Regions from separate parts of the Homo sapiens genome. Here region 2 is linked to region 1. The links come from fine-mapping of genetic effects on gene expression. A gene starts in region 1. The other region holds a variant in brackets. All regions are shown on one strand. Distances are between the middles of the regions.

Region 1 (9,220 bases):
CAGAGAGCTGTTTTGTCACCTCCAGGGAAATCCCCGCCGCTCTCCACCCCCACCCCACCCCCAGTGCGTTTGATATAATTTTCTAAATATAAAAAGCCCAAGGCCAGGCTGGTCTCTCTCGCTTTCTTCTTGACATCCCATCATGGGGGGCTGTTTGGGATGTCAAGAAGGAGAGAAAACCCTCCCACAATGACACAGAGGCCTCCCCCAACAACACTCAAGGTCATTCTCGGGTTGTCACCATCCCTCACACCCACTCCCAGCCTCAGACTCACAGCTATCTCCCTCCGCACTCCCGGAGGGACGGTTGGATGCCCTGGCCTTCAGCACACGGCATGGCCCTCTGTCCCCATTTTGGGTTCTGTGCACAGTGGGACACACGTGCATGCAGTCATAGTTACACACACACACACACGACACTCCCTCACGGTGCCTGTGTCTGCATGACTCTGCACACACAACCACACAGAGACTCACATAGACACACACAGGCCTGTCTAGAGACAGACGTCACACACACAGGCGTGCACAGACACACATGGGCAGACACACTCACGGACACAAACACCGCACTTGCGGGGGGATAGACAACCACATCTCACCCTCCTGCCCTTCCCTGTCCCCACCGCGTTTCTGCAGGGCCGAGAGCCCAGCTCCAGGCAGAGCTGGTGCAGGAGGAGCAGGGAGGTGGCGTGCTGTGTGTCATTGTGATGGTGCGTATGTGACTCTGTGTGTGCCTGTATGGGAATACCGGGGGGTTCCACTTGTGGGTGTGTGTGTGCTTGTAAGAGTGTGTGCTTTTGTGTGGAGTGTGTCTGTGATTGTGGACAAGTGCCCATGTGTTTGTGGTTGTGTCTGCACTTGTGTGGGGGCAGCTATATCCATGCGTTGTGCTTGTCAAGAAGCGTCCTGTGGGGAGTTGGGAGGGTGTGTTTGTGGCTGTGTGTGTGCCATGTGGGTCTGTGTGTGTGTGTGTGTGTCTCTGCTCGCCCCTCTTTGAGGAGGTATCTGAGGTCAGGTGTGGGGGGAAGGCTGTGATGATATATGGGTCTGTTTTTATGTGAGTCTGTGCGTGTATTTGTGTCTTTGTGTATGTAGCTGTGTGTCGTGTGGAGTCTGTGTCTGCAGCTGCTTGAGTCTGCACGATGTGTGTCTGTGTGTCTCTGTAGGTCGTAGTGTGTGGTGTGTGTGTCTATCTGTACCAGCCTCAACGGCCTATCTGACCTTTAACTCACTTGACTTTAACATCCCTTCTTACAGCCTCAGTTTCTCATCTGTAAAATGGGACCACATGGGACCCTTGCAAGGTTCCTGGGGAGCTGACATTGTGAGCCCCTTGCTGAGCAGGTGCGGGGCTAGGGGAGGCTGACTGCACACTGCACTGCTGTGTAATCATTTGCCTGCAAGATTATGTCCTTTATTCTCTGGGTGTGGTGGCTGTGGGGTTACCATGGGGGGCTGGGGGTTCCTGTCTACCCTGCCTGAGCTGCTCTGTGAATTGCATTCAACTTTTTAAGTTTTCCTTTAATTACTGAAGCCATTAGTGATCATATGAAGAGGATACAACTGTATCCAGAGGAAAAAAAATCCAATCTTTCTGATCACCCCCATTCCTGGGTGGAACCCCGCTCCAGAATGTTACCATCTATAGTTGGAGCATTTGCAGGACTGAGAAATACACACTTATAGAGGATACATGTGCATATGTGTATATTTCCATAAAGGATGTACTTGTGGAAATACTCGTGTATTTCCATAAAGGAGACATATGTATATGTATGTGTATGTGTGTGTATATATATATATATATATATATATATATTTTTTTTTTTTTTTTTTTTGAGATGGAGTTTCGCTCTGTTGCCCAGGCTGGAGTGCAATGGCATGATCCTGGCTCACTGCAACCTCCACCTCCCGAGTTCAAGCGAACCTCCAGCCTCAGCCTCCCGAGTAGCTGACATTACAGGCACCCTCGCCCATGCCCGGCTAATTTTTGTAATTTTAGTAGAGACGGGGTTTCGCCATGTTGGCCAGGCTGATTTTAAACTCCTGACCTCAAGTGATCTGCCTGCCTCGGCCTCCCAAAGTGTTGGGATTACAGGCGTGAGCCACTACAACCGGCCAAAGGAGATATGTGTGTGTGTGGGTGTGTGTGCATGTGTGTGTATGTAAAGGATACTATGTATATTTGTATAAATACATGTGTACTCTTTAAAACCCTAAATGAGATCTTGAATTTCCTTGCTGGGTCTACAGCAGTGGGGTCTCAGCCAGGGTTGATTCTGTTCCCATGGGACACTTAGCCATGTCTAAGGACATTTGTGGTTGTCACGACTGGGGGGTGCCCCTGGCATGGAGTGGGTGGAGGCCATGGACTCTGCTCAGCACCCTGCAGGGCCCAGGACGGCCCCAACCCAGAGAGCGATCCAGCCCCAGTGTCCACAGTGCCAAGGGGGAGAGCTCTCCAGCTTTCTGTCCCCCCACTTGTCTCTTGGGGACATAACCAGTTGGGAGCCACTGGTTTTACTCAGCTGCATAGTGTCCCAGCCTGTGTTGGGATTACTAAACCGGTCCCCCACAGATGGACAGCATGGCTGCCTCCAAATTGTGGGCATTAGTTTTATAGGTGGCAGTCAACTCTTTTGTGCTCCTGTATCTGGGACAGTTACAGAGATGCCGAAGAGTGAAATAACTGTAGAGAGAGTGCTTTGAAAAAAAAAAAAAATGAGCCAGATTGTGCTCGAAAGTGCCAGGAGCTAAATCATGCACCCATCTTCCGGGCCCTCCACATGCAGGTCCCAATCTACCAATTGCCTTTTTAAAGAAACTATGACGTACAGTTCCCTGTTGTAACCACGGGCAGGTATTTGCTGACTTGCCTACAACCTGGAGGGTTATGAGCTGGCGTCGCCCCATTTCACAGAGGGAGAGCCGAGGTGCAGAGAGACGAAGCTGCTGACTGGAGGAGACATAGACCCAAGCAGCGAGCCCACGCGGCAATTTAGGGAACCAACTGTGTGTGCTGCGGGGGTCCCTTGCCACCCAAACTGGGATATAGGCTGCTGTTCGTACACTTGCAGAAGTTTCTCCCTGCAGCTACCGCCACCAATAATATTCACACAGCCTTCCCACATGCTATGTAAAGACTCCAACCTTCCCCACCTCCCAAGATGCATCCTGTTACTATAGCCATTTTACAGATGAGGAAACCGAGGTTCCAAGAGGGGCAGTCTCTGCTCTCTAAACTTCACCTTCCAAAGGATTCTAAGCTGCTGAATGAAGGCTGCAGGCAGGGTGGTCTGTACAGGGGAGGGAGGGTGGAAGGCACGGGGTCTGGAAGTCTAGGAGGAGTGTCTGAAGTCAACTGCAACTTTTAAATATCTGTGAATTTTAGATTTCACCCTGTATGTGTCCCTAGCGTGTTTTAATAAAATAAATTGCTTCACGTTATATTGGTATGTGGATTTCCAGATACACTTCTCACCATTTAATTCAAATGCTCCCCACAGCTGCACAGTGGGTTTAAAATACACAGACACACACATTTATGGACCGTTCGTGATGTACTAAGCACTGTTTGAATAATGTCACCGTCATGCAGAGGGGAGCCTGTGGGGGGCCTAGGGAACCTACGCTGCAGGAATTCTGCTCCCTCCTAGTTTACCTGTCAGACCCTGGGCAAGTGGCTTCCGTTCTCTGGGCCTCAGTTTCCTCTCCTGTAATGCCTGAGGATAATGGGTGCTGGTATCTTCTGCGCCCCTGGGCCTGGGGCACCTGCCCCAGCTTGGTGAGAGGGTATCATTTGTCCTTGGGAAGCTCAGAGAGATGAGGTGAAATGGCCAAGCTTTCTAAGAATGTGTCTTTAGTGAACATTTGACCCAAGGTCAAGGCTCTGCTAAGGTCATTGTCCTTATCCCCAGCAATCCCACAGGATGGGCATCTTTAAGCCACTTTATAGGGGAGAACCCTTGGGATGGGAATGAGAGACACAGCAGCCTCTGAGCTAGCCTGGGAGGATCCAGGGAGTGAACCGGGGGAGGGTTGGGGCCCTGTCATCAGATGCCCTGGGGGCTCAGACGGAGGCAGGCCAGGTCTCTGCCCTGTTACGTCTAGAAGGAGAACAGAATGTGGGCTCCAGGTCCAGATGGCCTGGCTCCAAGCCACACTTGCCATACCTCAGTCTTGAGATCTGTGAAAAGGGCACACCCCTGAGGCAGGTGGAAATTATTGGATACCCAGGGGGAGGCTGCAAGGGTTTATCTGGCCAGCTGGAGATCCCGCCTGGACACCGTCCTCCTGGGGTGCTGGAGAGACACACAGGCGAGGCCACCCCTCCCCTGCCCCTTGGGTGCTGGGTGAAGAGAGCAAATTCTGGAGCCTCCCGTGTTAGCCTGGGCCCTTCTGGCCAAGGAAGGGACAGCTGCACACAAGCCCCTCTAGCTGGGGACCCGCAGCCCCTGCCTGGCTCTGGGGGGAGAAGGGAGCCAGGGTGCTGTGGGACCAGCTCACCGTGCACCCAGGGTCGTACATCTTTAAGGGGAAAGAGGCGCGCTGGCCGGCCTCTGCGCACGTCACTTCTTCATTCCTTCCCTCCCCCCTGGCTCTTTCCTCCAACTTCCCGGCCAGCTCGGGGGTGATGGGGGGGTGGGGAGGGGGGGCCTTAAAAATCCACCCCTGGCCCCTCAATGTCCAGAAACAACCCTGTCCCCCCTCTCCGCTTGATCCGAATTGGGGTCGCCCTGCAGTCCTGGGGTCCTGGTCTAGTGCCCTGGGGCATTGCGTAAATACGGGAGGAGCGGGGGGGTCCTGAGACGTCGGGGGAGGCTCTCCTTTCTCGCTCGCGCCCTTTTTTCCCTCGTTTCTTTGAAAGTTGGGTGTTGAGAAGTGGGAGGTTCGGGGTGGGAGGGGGAGGGTGTCAGAGGGTAGAGAGAGAGACAGAGAGACAGAGACGGGGGAGAGAGGAAGAGAGAGACGGAGGGAGAGAGGGACAGAGAGCGAGGCGGGCGGCGCGAGAGAGGGAGAGCAGGAGGGAGGAGGAGGGAGACCGAGGGAGGAGGCGGCGAGGAGAGCGCGCCGGCCGCGGGGCGGGGGGGGGGGTTGGGGGGGGCGGGGGGGTGGTTTGGAAAAATGACTCAGTAAGTTCAGCGCGCCCGCTCCGGCCGGCCCTGCGCCTCCCGCCGCGCCCGGGATGTATTCGTCCCCGCTCTGCCTCACCCAGGTACGGTCCTCGCCCGGCCCCCCGCCGGCGCCCCCGCGCCCCCCGCATCCCAGCCCCGGAGTTTTGAAGCAGGAGGAGGCGGGACGAAAAAGGCGCGCGTCCCTCCCGCCATCCCTGCCCGGGATGCCCCCCGCGCCGAGGGCTGGGGTCCGGTGGGGGGATGGGTCAGGCTGGGGTACCCCCCCCACACCCTTACCTACCGCGGACCCCCTACGCGGGACTCCCGCCCAGCACCCCCAACCCCGACTCTCGGGACCTCTCCCGGATGTGGGGCTTGGTCTGCAGATTTGCGTCCCCCCCCCACACACCGACGCACTCCGCACCCCCGCCCCGACACTCGGAAAGGTCGGGGTGGGGGCTGGCCCCCCTCCAGCAAGGGCTCTGCGGGAAGCCCCCCGCCTGCCTCTGAGAGGAATCTAGGGGGTCGTGATTGGACCCTGGGTCTCCCCAGCTGGAGAGAAAGGGACCTCTCATGTGTTTTCCCCGTGTCCCCCCACCAAGGTTGTGCGGGCCGCCCTGGCCCTCGGTCGCCTTTCCCTCGTTATTGGCCCACGTGTGCATGGAGGGGGAGGGGGCAGGAGAAGTTGGAGGCCCAGGAGGGGGAAGGGTGCTCCGGCGGCCCGGCTGGGTCCCCCCTCCTTTGCAAGCCCCCCAGCACCGTCCCGGTATTTTCGCTGCATCGATTCTGGATTCTGGATTCTGGATTCTGGAGCCGCCGCCGGGAGGAGCGGGAGGCCCGGCGCTCCGGGTCTGGCCCGGGCACTGCGGCGCTGCGGACGCCCTCGCCAGCCCGGCACCTGCCCCGTCCCCTCCCCCTCCCCCTCCCCCTCCCGTAGCCTCTCACCCCTGGCCGCACTCCCAGACTGCCCCGGGGCCGAGCCTTGTGCAATGGCCGAGGGGGTGTGTGGGGAGGGGGCGGCTCCCCCCGGGGACTCCTTCCAGCCCAGGCTCCCGGGGACCCCGAGGTCTGCAAGTTCCGTTTTCTAGACCGCTGCTTTCCTCCTTACGCAGTGTGTCTTTAGGCTGGAGAGGTTCTGGCCTCAGTTTCCCCTGAAGTGAGGTGCGGCTAAGGCCGGTTCTGGAGAGGGGACAGTATGGCGGGCAAACTGTAAAGTCCCGGCACGTGGGGGGTGCGATTCCAGCGAGGGCCAGGCCCGTCTTAAGAAGCACTGTGTGGGGAGTATATGAGTCCCCGGCTTCCGCTCCAGGGCATGGTGCAGTGAGGGACCCCCCACGCCAGGCATGCTCCTTGGTAGGGTCTTTCTCACCGGCCCCCTGCAGCCGACAGGGAATGTGGGAGCTGGTGCTGAGGGGGTCTGAGGTCTGTCCTACCTGTGATCCCCTGAGTGACCTTGGGTAAGTCCCTGTCCCAGCCTCAGTTTCCCTTTCTGAGCAGCTTTGGGGGGGGGGTTCCCGAAGAAGGCATCTCTTTGAAGTTCTCCAAGAACAACTAGGGTTCGAGTGGGCACGCTGTGTGACCTCGGGCAGCCTTTGAAGTCTCTGGGCTTGTGGGGTGACTGAGGTGTCCCCGCTCTGTCCTCACCAGCTGGAAGGAGCCATTTGGGAGGGCTGAGCGGAGGGGAGGCTGTTCCAGGCTGGGGAGGTTGGAAGGCTGCCTGTGCACCCTGGAATTCCCCCATCAGGGCTGGTTGGGAGACATCCTGGTTGCTGGGGTGGGTTGGGGGTTAGTAAGAACCCCAGTCCAGGCTTTGCCTCAGAGAATTGCTAACTCGGCCTCAGTTTCTCCAGGAACAGGGCAAGGACCAGCCAGGAGGGCTGTCTGTGGAAACCAAAAAACGGAGAGGCTAAAAACTAAAAACTATCCAGGGGTGCTGCGTGCAAGAGACAGAGATGAGAAGACAGAGACAGGCAGAGAGACAGAGGCAGAGAGCTCCCAGGCCAGAGTGGGGACAGCGAGTCCCAAGTGCAGGGGGCTCCCTCCTCCCCTGCGATTCTCCTCTCTGCCCCGCCCTCCACCCCAGCCCTGTAGTGGAGCTGGGGACCCCCTTTCCAGTTTGTCTTCAGCCTGAATGTAATCCCCACTGTTCCCCCAAGGCCCAGCCTGGTCTGGGGTAGCCAGTGGGGTGGGCTGGGGGACTCAGAAGGACCCTGAGTGCCCCATGCAGGAGCCTCCCACCCAAGTCCTGGCTGCCTGACTCAGTTTCCCGAATCACGTCCCCTCCGTTTCTCTCATCTTGGTCTCTTTTTGTCTGTCTTTCTCTCTTTCTCTCTGTCTTGCTCTGACTCTGTGTGTGTGTGTGTGTGTGTGTGTGTGTGTGTGTCTGTTTCTCCCTGTCTCTCCATCTCTGTCTCTCCCCGCCTCTGTTTCACTCCCAGTCACTGTTGGTCTCTTTGTGTCTCTCTTTCTCATCCTCTGTCTCTCTGATGTCTCAGTCTCTCCCACTGTCTCTGTCTCTTCATGTCTATCTCACCATCCCTTTCTCCTCTTTGTCTCTGCATGTCTCTTTGATGTGTCTCTGTCTCTCTGTCTCTCCCTCCCTTTGCCTTCTTTGTGTGTCTGTCCGATGTGTCTCTGTCTGTTTCTCTGTCTCTGTCTCTCTGCCCCCTTCCTCTCTGTCTCTGTTTCTCTCCAATATGTCTGTCTGTCTCTTCATCTCTGTCTCACCTTCCCTTTCTCCTCTGTCTCTGCGTGTCTCCCCTTGCCCCCTCTCTCCCTGTCTCTCTCTATCTCTGCATGTGTCTCCTTACTCCTCTCTCTCTGTCTCTCTCTGTCTCTGGGCCTCCCTCTCCCCCTTTTCCCAGCTAATTTTACAACCTGAGCCCAACCGAAAATAGCTCCCTTTTAGCTGATCCGACCCGGATCCTTCTCGGGAGCCGAGGCTGGCGGGGGGTGGGGGGCATCTCGGTGCCAGCCCGCTCTGTGCCACCCGGGCCCGGCCCGCCGAGTGGGGAGTGGGTGCTGGCGGCCCTGGGGCATTCTGGGAGCCCCGGGCCGGGCTCAGCGGTGACTCAAGCGCTTTTTCACTTTTACTCTTAAGAGGAACTGTGTGGAGCCCATGGCTCCCATAAATCCTGCCGGCGGGAAGGCCGGCCTCCCCGCGCCTGCTCTGGGCCTCCCTCCCTGCCTCCCTCCCGCTGGCGCCACCGCCACGTTAGTTATTCCGGGTTTGGGGCCAAGTCCCTCTTGGCCGCAGCGTGGCGGATTCCCCGAGCCACCTCCATCCCGCCACCGGGTCCCTGTCTCATTCGTTCGTTGTTTCCTTCATTCGTTCGTCCCATGCCCTCTCGGAGCACAATGTGCTTTGCTGCCATTTCTCCAGCAGGGTAACCGAGGCTGGGAGAGGCTGTCCTCCCACCCCAGACCCCCGACCTTTGTTGGATTTTCTAGATCTTCCTTAAGCATCTCCTGGGCCCTGGGGATAGGTGGGGGTGGGGGAGGCAGCAGGGCCCAGGCCCAGTGTAGGTTCTTAGAGGGAGCTTGGGGGGTGCCTACCAGGAGCAGGGGGCCTGCAGCCCCTCAGTGCCGGGAGAGGGGCTAAGAGTCAGAGAGGGCCAGGGCCTGCCCGAGGTGGCACAGTGGGGCTGGCAGAGCTGGGGTTCAGGCCATTTTCCATCTGGCGGCTTGGGCAGGTGGGCGCTCTCTCCCCGTGTGCCCCCCACCCGGGGCCTGGTGGCCTCTGATTCACTCTCTACAAGGCTCCACCACTCTCCCGCTGTATCTCCCTCTGGGTCTCTCTGTGCATCTCTCTCTGTTTCTCCCCCTCCCCTCTCTGCGGCGGAGGTGCCTCTGCGCGCCAGGGCCAAGCGCCCTGTAAATCACCAAAGCTGGGATTCTGGCAGAGTCAGCGTTCTCCTCTCTCTCTCTCTCTCTCTCTGTCTCCCTCCCTTTCTCCCCCCATCTCGCTCTCTCCTCCTCTCTCCCTCTCTCCTTCTCTGTCTCCCTTTCCGTCTTTCCCTCTTCCTTTCTCTCTCTCTCCCCGTCTCCCTTCTCTCCCTCTCTCCTTCTCTCTTCTCTCTCTCTTTCTCCCTCCCTACCTCCCT
Region 2 (9,220 bases), 91 kb after region 1:
GGCTCCAGGTGACCTCCCGGGGGCCACGTGCTCACACGAAGGCACAACCTCTGCTTAAAAGGGTCTTGAGGACTTGGCTCTGAAGTCCCCTCCTCTGTCGTGCTGGGAGGCAGCTGGATTGGGTCAGAATTGAGATGCTTTCGGATGTCAGGGTTTCGGGCGCATCATGTCGCACCCTGTGGGGTCTGGGTAGCACCCGTAGGTCCCAGCAACTGCGTGAGTCGTACTCATGTTAACACAAGGCAGGGAGGGACTGGGCATAGCGGCTCATGCCTGTGATCCCAGCGCTTTCGGAGGCCAAGGCGGGAGGATTGCATAAGCCCAGAGTTCAAGACCAACCTGGGCAGCATAGCGTGACCCAGTTTCTACAAAAAAAATACTTAAAAATGAGCCACGCATGGTGGCGGGCGCCTGTAGTCCCAGCTACTCAGGAGGCTGAGGTGGGAGGATCGCTTGAACCTGGGAGGTCGAGGCTGCTGTGAGCTGTGATTGTGCCACTGCACCCCAGCCTGGGTGACAGAACGAGACCCTGTCTCAAAAAGAAAAAAAAGGTTGGGGGGCGGGGGGCAGGAAGACATTGATTACAAAAAAACCACCAAACTCAGTTCGAGCAAGACAGCGTTTGCCAGACTCCACAGGAAGCTTTGGATGTTCAGAGCTTTTCGGACTTTGGAACCACGGGCCAGGCCGTGGATGATGGTGGATGATGGCGTGCTCGCAGTGAATTAGGAAAAACGCGGAGAACCTGCTGTTAGGAGGCGGTGGCACTGTTTGGAAGGAAATCAGTCGAGTTGGCGTGCAGGGGGTTTACAGAGGAGATGCAGTGAGCGTGGCCCCAGTAGTGCCGGGCTTTGAGTGACACCAGCAAGCGGGTGTCCCCAGGCCCCTCCACCTCCGGCCGTCCTCAGACCCACCAAACCCGCCATGGTCACACCCGCGCCCTGGCCCCCCAGCCTGCCACCCCGTCCGGGCCGTGCACAGAGCCGGGGGCGGCCGGCGCCAGCAGCCCGAGGTAGAGGGGGAGCCCACCCCTTAACCACGTGTCTCTCTGTTCCCCCAGTTAAATGGAAGTGGTCAGCTCAAAATGCCCAGCCACTGCCTTTCTGCTCAGATGCTGGCACCTCCGCCCCCGGGGCTGCCACGGCTGGCGCTCCCCCCTGCCACCAAACCCGCCACCACCTCCGAGGGAGGAGCCACGTCGCCGACCTCGCCTTGTAAGCACGCGGGAAGCGGTGCCCTGGTGGGGCGGATGTCCGCAGGGGGGCCTGTCCCCTCCCCAGCCCCACTGCCAGGTCAGAGGTCAGGCCCGACCCTGCAGGGCCTGGCGAGTTTGGTGGGTCTCCGGAAAACAGCCCAGTGGCCACGTGGTTGGGCCCATGTAGGGCTGAGGCAGCCTTAGGGGCTGGCCGGACCAAGCCTCGGGCCAGGGTGAGAGTCCAGGGTCTGTCCCCTTCGCCGAGTCACCTGGGGGACCCCGGTGCCCGCCGTGGGCCGTCAGAAACCCTCCCTGGTATGTCAGGCAGCTGACAGTGGACACGGATCTCACAGTGGCGGCCCGAGGGCCAGACTCGACCCCCAGACTGGTCTTTTGTTTGTGGAGAAAGAGAATCGGTTGTTATCATTTTAAAATCAGGACGTTTTACATAAACATTTCCAGAGTTCTGGCTTCTTGGGGAGAAAGGAGCTACACCAGGCCCAGTTCCTTTGGGTGACCTGGGCTGGACCACACCTTTAGATGGGACTCTCTTCGCCTGTCCACCTGACCTGGAAGCCCCTGGGTTGGCGGCTGCTGCACCTTCTAGATTTTTCTGCTCTCTGGATGTGGTTCTGGGTGGCTGCTGGATGGCCCCTCGGTCCTGGCATCCCTGTCCTGAGGTCCACCCCATTCGTCCGCAGTGGCTCTACCCCCAGACTCTCCCCACGACCCCCATGCAGGCTTGGGTGGGTCACCCACCCTCACAGGGCGCCAGACATCTCTGAACCCAGAGACCTCTCCCCATGGACTCCATCTGCCCCTCACCCCCCTTTTTGAGCATCTCTGTCCCTCACTCTCCAAATGAGACCCCCCACCCCACCCAAGCAGTTGGTGGCCACGGTTCCTTCTAGGTGCCCTCAGCTCCTCTTCTCCCTGCCCCGGCGTTCCTGTCCCCGTCCCCACTGCGTGCCAGAACCCAGGCTGCCTGCCCATAAAAACCGGCTTCTGATCACTGGCTGGAGGAGATCAGCCCCAAATCCACCCTGGGCTGGAATCCCACCTCTGCAGCTCTCTCACTGTGTGACCTCAGGCAGGTGTCTTCCCCTCTCTGAGCCTCAGTTTTCTCAGCTGCAAAGTGGGTTTGCCTTGGTGCCCAATTCACAGGGCAGTGGGGGACAAGCCGGTGACATGGGTCAGGGAGGCAGAGAGGACATTCCATGTGGCGCCTGATGCTGCGTGGTGTCAGGCAGCTGTGGTCATTCTTGCCGGCTGTCCCTGCCTGCTCATCTGTGAAATGGGAGCGTTGACTGCATAGGATCCAGTCAGGGCTCAGTGGGATCATGCCCAGAGCCTGGTATTCAGTAGACACTTAATAAATGCAGGATACTGCGTGGGATCCACTCAGGGCTCGATGGGATTATGCCCAGAGCCTGGCATACAGTAGACACTTAATAGATGCAGGATACTGTGTAGGATCCACTCAGGGCTCGGTGGGATTATGCCCAGTGCCTGGCATACAGTAGACACTTAATAGATGCAGGATACTGCGTAGGATCCACTCAGGGCTCGGTGGGATTATGCCCAGAGCCTGGCATACAGTAGACACTTAATAGGTGCAGGATACTGTGTAGGATCCACTCAGGGCTCAGTGGGATTATGCCCAGAGCCTGGTATACAATAGACACTTAATAGATGCAGGATACTGCTTAGGATCCACTCAGGGCTCGATGAGATTATGCCCAGAGCCTGGTTTACAGTAGACACTTAATAGATGCAGGATGCTGCTTAGGATCCACTCAGGGCTCGGTGGGATTATGCCCAGAGCCTGGTATACAGTAGACACTTAATAGATGCAGGATGCTGCTTAGTATCCACTCAGGGCTCAACGGGATTATGCCCAGTGCCTGGCATACAGTACACACTTAATAAATGCAGGATAGGCATGGATTCCACCCCCCTTTCCCTGCACCGGGGCTCTTAACTGCAAATCTACTCCTACTTCTCCCCATAAGCCTCGCTGCCTCCAGCTCCCCCCAACCCCAGCCAGGACAACTTGGGGACCCTGCCTGTTGCAGCTTCTTCTCCCCCTACCTGGGTCCCGGCCTGTCTGAGGCCCCCATCCCTGCTGTAGCCCCAGGCCGTGAGTTACTCACACGCCGACAAAATATAATCGCTGAGGCTGAAATATAAATACGCACATCTGTATGTATGCACACACCCAGCCCTCCCTCTGCCCTCTCCGGGAGGAAGATTAATAAATAAAACGCCCTCAATAATTCATGCACCCCGCGCGGAGGCAGCCCTCAGTGGCAGGACCGGGCGGGCGCTGCCCACCCTGAATAATTCACGGGCGGTTTTGTGAATTACAGAGCCATCCTGCCTTCCCTCTCAGCAGACACCCCGCCCACCTGGGCGATCTCAGCCGTGACCCCCGGGCCCCTCGAGTCAGGATCCCCGCCTCCCAAGGACCTTGGGCCTTTCAGGGGGGCCCGGTTCAACTGGGGGTAGGGCGGCAGGCTCGGAGGCCCCAGGCACTGGGTGCAGAGGCCCGGCTGTGTGACGCCTGGCGGTGGCCACCCTCTCTGGGGCCAGGGCCGCCCCGGCTCCCACAACCCCTCGCTAACGGGCTCTCGGTCTCTCTCCTCCCTGCAGCCTACTCTCCGCCCGACACGTCCCCTGCAAACCGTTCCTTTGTGGGATTAGGACCAAGGGATCCTGCGGGCATTTATCAGGCACAGGTAGGGGCCGAGAGGCCGGCTGGTGGGGTGGGAGGGGCAGGGCAGAGGGGCCGGCCCGGGGGGCTCAGGGCGAAGAGGGCCTGCTGGGTCCCACGCCACACCCCTGGCACAGGGGCGCCAGCCTCCCACACCCCACCTGGGCCTCGAGCCCCCACCTGGCCTCTCCCTGAGGCCAAATTTCCCTCCACCTTGGTCCTGGGGGGATGGGGTGTGGCCCCAGACTCAGCCTGTGGGGTCCCCAGGAGCGTCTCTGGAGACCATCGTGGTACAGCTATGGGACCAGTGTCATTACCACCTGCTTCCCATGGTATAGATGGGAAAACTGAGGCCCAGAGAGACAAGGGGGTCTGCCCAGGGTCACACAGTGCATCACCCTCCCTCCTCCAGCCTCCATCCCCCATCCACGCCGAGGCCTAGAGGGACC[G/A]CGGGGTGGCCGGGGGAAACTGAGGCAGCCCATGGCGGGGCGTGGGGCCTCCCAGGACAGCATCCAAGCCCCCACCCCAGGCTTCAGCCCACATCTAAGCCAGTGTGAGGAGTCAGGGCGGAGAGGCTTCGTCAGCAGGACAGACAGGATGGGGCAGGGGCCAGCGTTCATGTTCACGTTGATGTTCATAGTCACGTACATGTTCAGACGGCTGCAGCTGAGTGAGCATGGCCGGGGTCCCACCACCCCTAGAAGGCAGGCAGGCAGGCAGGAGGTTGACAGAGGAGGCTCAGAGAGGGGAAGTCAATTGCCTGAGGCTGCACAGTAGTCTAGGGAGTGGGGGCGTGGGAGGGCAGCCTTAGCCCCAGGCCCAGGTGTCCCTCACCCCCCACCCCCATAAGGGGCTCTGTGTAGGCCAGGAGTGTGTGAGCGCGTCTTCGGGTTATGGGTAAGCAGCTGGACCTTTGAGCCTCTGCTCTCTCCCCGGTTTGTGTTGGGGAGAGGGTTGGAGGATGTAGGAGTGGCTGCCACAGGCCCGGGAGGTCCAGACTCAGAGAGAAACGAGCTCTGGGCTACCCAGCGGCCACGGAACTGCAGAGCGTGGAGATGTATGGGGTCCCCAGGGGCCGTGTTCAAATCTTCCAGCCACTGAGGGAGGTTTCCTGCTGCAGAGCCCACGGGCAAGGGTCACGGGGCCTCCCCGGGACCCTGCGGGGCTGTCCTGGCTGAGCGGATGGGGGCGGGGAGGGGACATGGCATTCCCCCTCCCTCCCTGTGCTGGGTGCCCAGGATGCCTGTAAGCGGCCCCTCCCTCTCTTCCCAGGCTCCGCAAAACCAGCCGGAGGAGGAAGCAGGGATGGAGGCTGCTTCTCCTGAGTTCAGAGGAGATCCATGTGCTATGGGTGGAGGGAATCCTGGGTCAGGGGCCAGGGCTCCAGCCCAGTGCTGGCTCACCCACTCTGAACCTCTGTCTCTTCCTCTGGCCTTGGGCACCCGCACCAAGAGCCTTTGAAGGGCACTGGGGGACAGAAAGGGCACTGAAAGGTTCAGGCTTCCCCACACCCCGTAAATATTAAGTACCCTGCCTTGCACCCATAGAGCCCCGGAGAGGGAGTAACTTGGTCAGGGTCCCCCAGCGAGCAGACGTCCAGGACTCCTCGCTTTGGGATTTGGGCCCCCTATGGCCAACCTCTCCCCCGCCTGGTGCTGATGGAGCCCGGCATTACCTCTGCCACCCCCACCCCACATCGCTCCCTGCCCCTGCGGGAGGCTGGGAACGTCTTAAGTGGTTCAGAAACCAAAGCTAATAAAAGCTGCGGTGGGAGGAGGCCCAGCCCGCTTAACCCTTCCCCAGCCTCTGCCTTGGACCAAACTCTCTGACCAGGCCCTCCCGCCAGGGCCCGGGACCCTTCTCTCAGACTGTGCTGGCTCCAGCCCCACCCCACCCAAGCCTGGGAGGGAAGGGAAACTGAGGCAGGCAAGGGTGGCACCTTTCTCAGCATCCCTATCTTGACTGGCTGGACTCCTCTGGGGACCCAGAAAGGGTGGGACCAGGGCTGGCAGAATGGGGTGTGGGGGGGCACTGGCAAGGGGCTCAGCATAGGCAATGGTGTGGGTCGGGGGAGGGGGAGCTGGCTGGAATGTGAGAGATCTCCGGTGGCAGGGGCCAGACAGATGATGCGGGCTTTGCTCTGGGGTAGTGGGGAGCCATAGAAGGGTTTAGAGGGAGGGAGTGGACACCCACCAGGCCTGGGAGTCAGAACTTTCTGGAGCACAGAAAGGAGGTGACACATTGTCAAGAGGCTCTCAGGGGAGCATGGGTTAGGGGGAAGGCGAGGTCCCCAAACTGGGCATCCAGGGAGCACAGGTCTGGGGAGGACCCCATTGCTGCTGCCCTGACTGGACTAAGAGCACCTGGGTTGAGGCCGGGCGCCGCCACCTCCCTGCAGACCCCGGAGAGAGGGAGGGAAGAAGCAGTGAGATCCCGCTCTCCCCTCTCCCAGCTCCCGCTCAAAGGGCCCTGAGCTTGGAGGCCTCTCATTTCCGATTCTGGCCAGTCAGCACTTCTGCCTCCGCCTCCTCTATTCCTGGCGGATTCGCTTCCCTCTGCCCCCTCCTCCCCCAAAGCCTGGGTGGGCGCGCCTTTCCCTCTGCCTCTCCGGCTCCCGACACCCCCCAGTCCATGGACTCTCCCCCCATCAATATCCCTCCCCGTGATCTATGCTAATTGATCTCGCCCTGGTCAGTTACCCACCCATCGCCCCATGTCCGTCCCTATCAATCCCCCCACTGTGAGGCTGGGTGGCTCTGACGCCCTGGCCCCTCCCCTCTGTGATGTCCTTCACGCCCCTACATTTCTCCTGCACGGGAACCCACGTAAGCAGCTGGGTAAACCGAGGGTGGGGGGCAAGGCGGGCATTGAGCCACATGCCGGGAGCCACACAGGCGGCTGCAGCCAGGCCAGCAGGATACCAGAGCCCAAACCTCCCCCTTCACACCTACTGCCTCAGTCTCCCCTCAGCTGAGTGGGAGGATGTGGAGTTGAGGGTGCCCCCACCCCACCCCCGCCCCATTGCTGGGGCCACAGCCAGGCAGGAAGGGGAGGGGAGGGAAGGGAGGAGGGAGGAAGGGCTGAGGGGAGGCTGGTCCACCACGGGGAGGGTCACGCCCAGAGTCTGTCGGTTGCCAACAGAAACCAGACATGAGGTAATGGCCAAGATGAACTTGAACTTGGCTGGAGGTGGGGCGCTGGGAACCACTGTGGCGCCAGTTCCATGGGCTGGCCCAGTGGCTGCCTGGTTGGAGGGGCTCTGTTGAATGATTTGCTGCAGCGGTGGGGGGCGGCCCCACCTCTAACCTCAGTTGGGGAGTGGAGGGGTCTCCCCAGTTCCAGAGGCACAGCCCTCCCCTCACAGTCCACCCTGGATGCTCCATCTGGGGTTGGAGTTTGCGTTTCCAGGGCAGGGGTCTGGACAGCAGCTTCTCTGCAGAGACTGAGGCCGGAGCTGTCCCCAAATGACGTGACCTTGGGTACAGCCCCATGCAGAACTCCCCTCCCTTAGCCTCGGTCTCCCGCCTCTGGGAGGTTGAGAGTCATCCTCAGCCCCCCTGTGCTTAGTGAGCTTCTGTGGAGCAAGAGGGGGCCATCCGGGGGACCTGTGACAGGATGGGCCCTGGACGCCCAGGACAGTGCTCAGAAGATGCCAAGGGGATTCCTGAGAGGCAGGCGAGGGGGTTGGCCCTGGGCAGGAGCAGAAATGAGAGCCAGAGCCAGACAGGCCTGAGTTCAAGTTCCACCTCTGCCGCTTCCATGCTGGTGACCTCGGGCAAGTTCCTTGACTTCTCTGGGCCTCACTTTCTTCACACAAAACAGCGGTGGAGGGAGACCTACCCCCTCCTTCACGGGGATACCGGGGACATCATTAAAGAGGAGAATTTTTTTTTGTTTTTTTTTGGTTTTTTTGGTTTTTGTTTTGAGACGGAGTCTTATGCTGCCCAGGCTGGAGTGCAATGGCACGATCTTGGCTGACTACAACCTCCGCCCCCTGGATTCAGACGATTCTGCTGCCTCAGCCTCCCGAGTAGCTGGGATTACAGGCACGTGCCACCACGCCTGGCTAATTTTTGTATTTTTAGTAGAGACAGGGTTTCACCATGTTGGCCAGGCTGGTCTCGAACCCCTGACCTCAGGTGATCCACCCACCTTGGTCTCCCAAAGTACTGGGATTACAGGCATGAGCCACCGAGCCCAGCCTCTTGTTTACTTTTTAAAAACATTCTCAAGGCCATGTGCAGTGGCTCATGCCTATAATCCCAGCACTTTGGGAGGCCAAAGCAAACGAATAAGCTGAGGTCAGGAGTTTGAGACCAGCCTGGCCAACATGGAGAAACCCCGTTTCTACCAAAAATACAAAAATTAGCTGGGTGTGATGGCGCATGCGTGTAATCCTAGCTACTCGGGAGGCTGAGGCAAGAAAATCACTTGAACCCGGGAGGCAGAGGTTGCAGTGAGCCAAGATCGTGCCACTGCACTCCAGCCTGGTGACAAGAGCGTGACGCTGTCTCAAAAAATCAACAAAAAACCTCTTTATAAAGTGAACAAGGCAGCTGATGTGGTGGCTCATGTCTGTAATCCTAGCACTTTGGGAGGAAGGAGTTCAAGGCCAGCCTGGTCTACATGGCGAAACCCCACCTCTACAAAAAAAAAAAAAAAACTAGTCAGATGTGGTGGAACATACCTGTGGTCCCAGCTACTCGGGAGGCTGAGGTGGGAGGATCACTTGAGCCCAGGAGATGGAGGCTGCAGTGAGCTATGATGGCACCACTGCACTCCAGCCTGGGCAACGGAGCAAGACCCTGTCTCAAAATAAAATAATAAATTGGCTGGCCACAGTGGCTCACGCCTGTAATCCCAGCACTTTGGGAGGCCAAGGTGGGCGGATCACTTGAGGCCAGGAATTCAAGACCAGCCCGGCCAACATGGCGAAACCCGGTCTCTACTAAGAATACAAAAATTAGCTGGGTGTGGTGGGGCGGGCCTGTAATCCCAGCTACTTGGGAGGCTAAGGCACAAGGATCACTTGAACCCAGGAAGCGGAGGTTGTAGAGAGCCAAGATCACACCACTGCATTCCAGCCTGGGCAACAGAGCAAGACTCTGTCTCATAAATAAATAATAAATAGAGAAGAAAATAATTTTTAAAATATAAAATAAAGGCCAGGCAGAGTGGCTCACGCCTGTAATCCCAGCACTTTGGGAGGCCGAGGCGGGCGGATCACGAGGTCAAGAGAGTGAGACCATCCTGGCCAACATGGTGAAACCCTGTCTCTACTAAAAATATAAAAATTAGCTGAGTGTGGTGGC

What was found.
Region 2: its variant is fine-mapped to the expression of NFIC in fibroblasts (GTEx, PIP above 0.99). The same link has a PIP of 0.9 or more in aorta and whole blood.

The regions. Positions count from the first base shown.
Region 1 is chr19:3,361,449-3,370,668 of GRCh38, forward strand. It overlaps NFIC (nuclear factor I C), which reads left to right and starts at 5,135. Exons shown (of 11, transcript NM_001245002.2): 1 at 5,135-5,218. The coding sequence starts at 5,189. RefSeq lists silencers at 4,764-4,853, 5,304-5,453, 5,744-6,143, 7,915-8,194.
Region 2 is chr19:3,452,703-3,461,922 of GRCh38, forward strand. NFIC (nuclear factor I C) reads left to right here. Exons shown (of 11, transcript NM_001245002.2): 9 at 1,061-1,214; 10 at 3,848-3,933. Among named protein-coding and RNA genes, the nearest start is that of SMIM24, 23 kb to the right of the region's middle. RefSeq lists a silencer at 4,827-4,876. The variant G/A (reference allele first, on the strand shown) is at 4,358.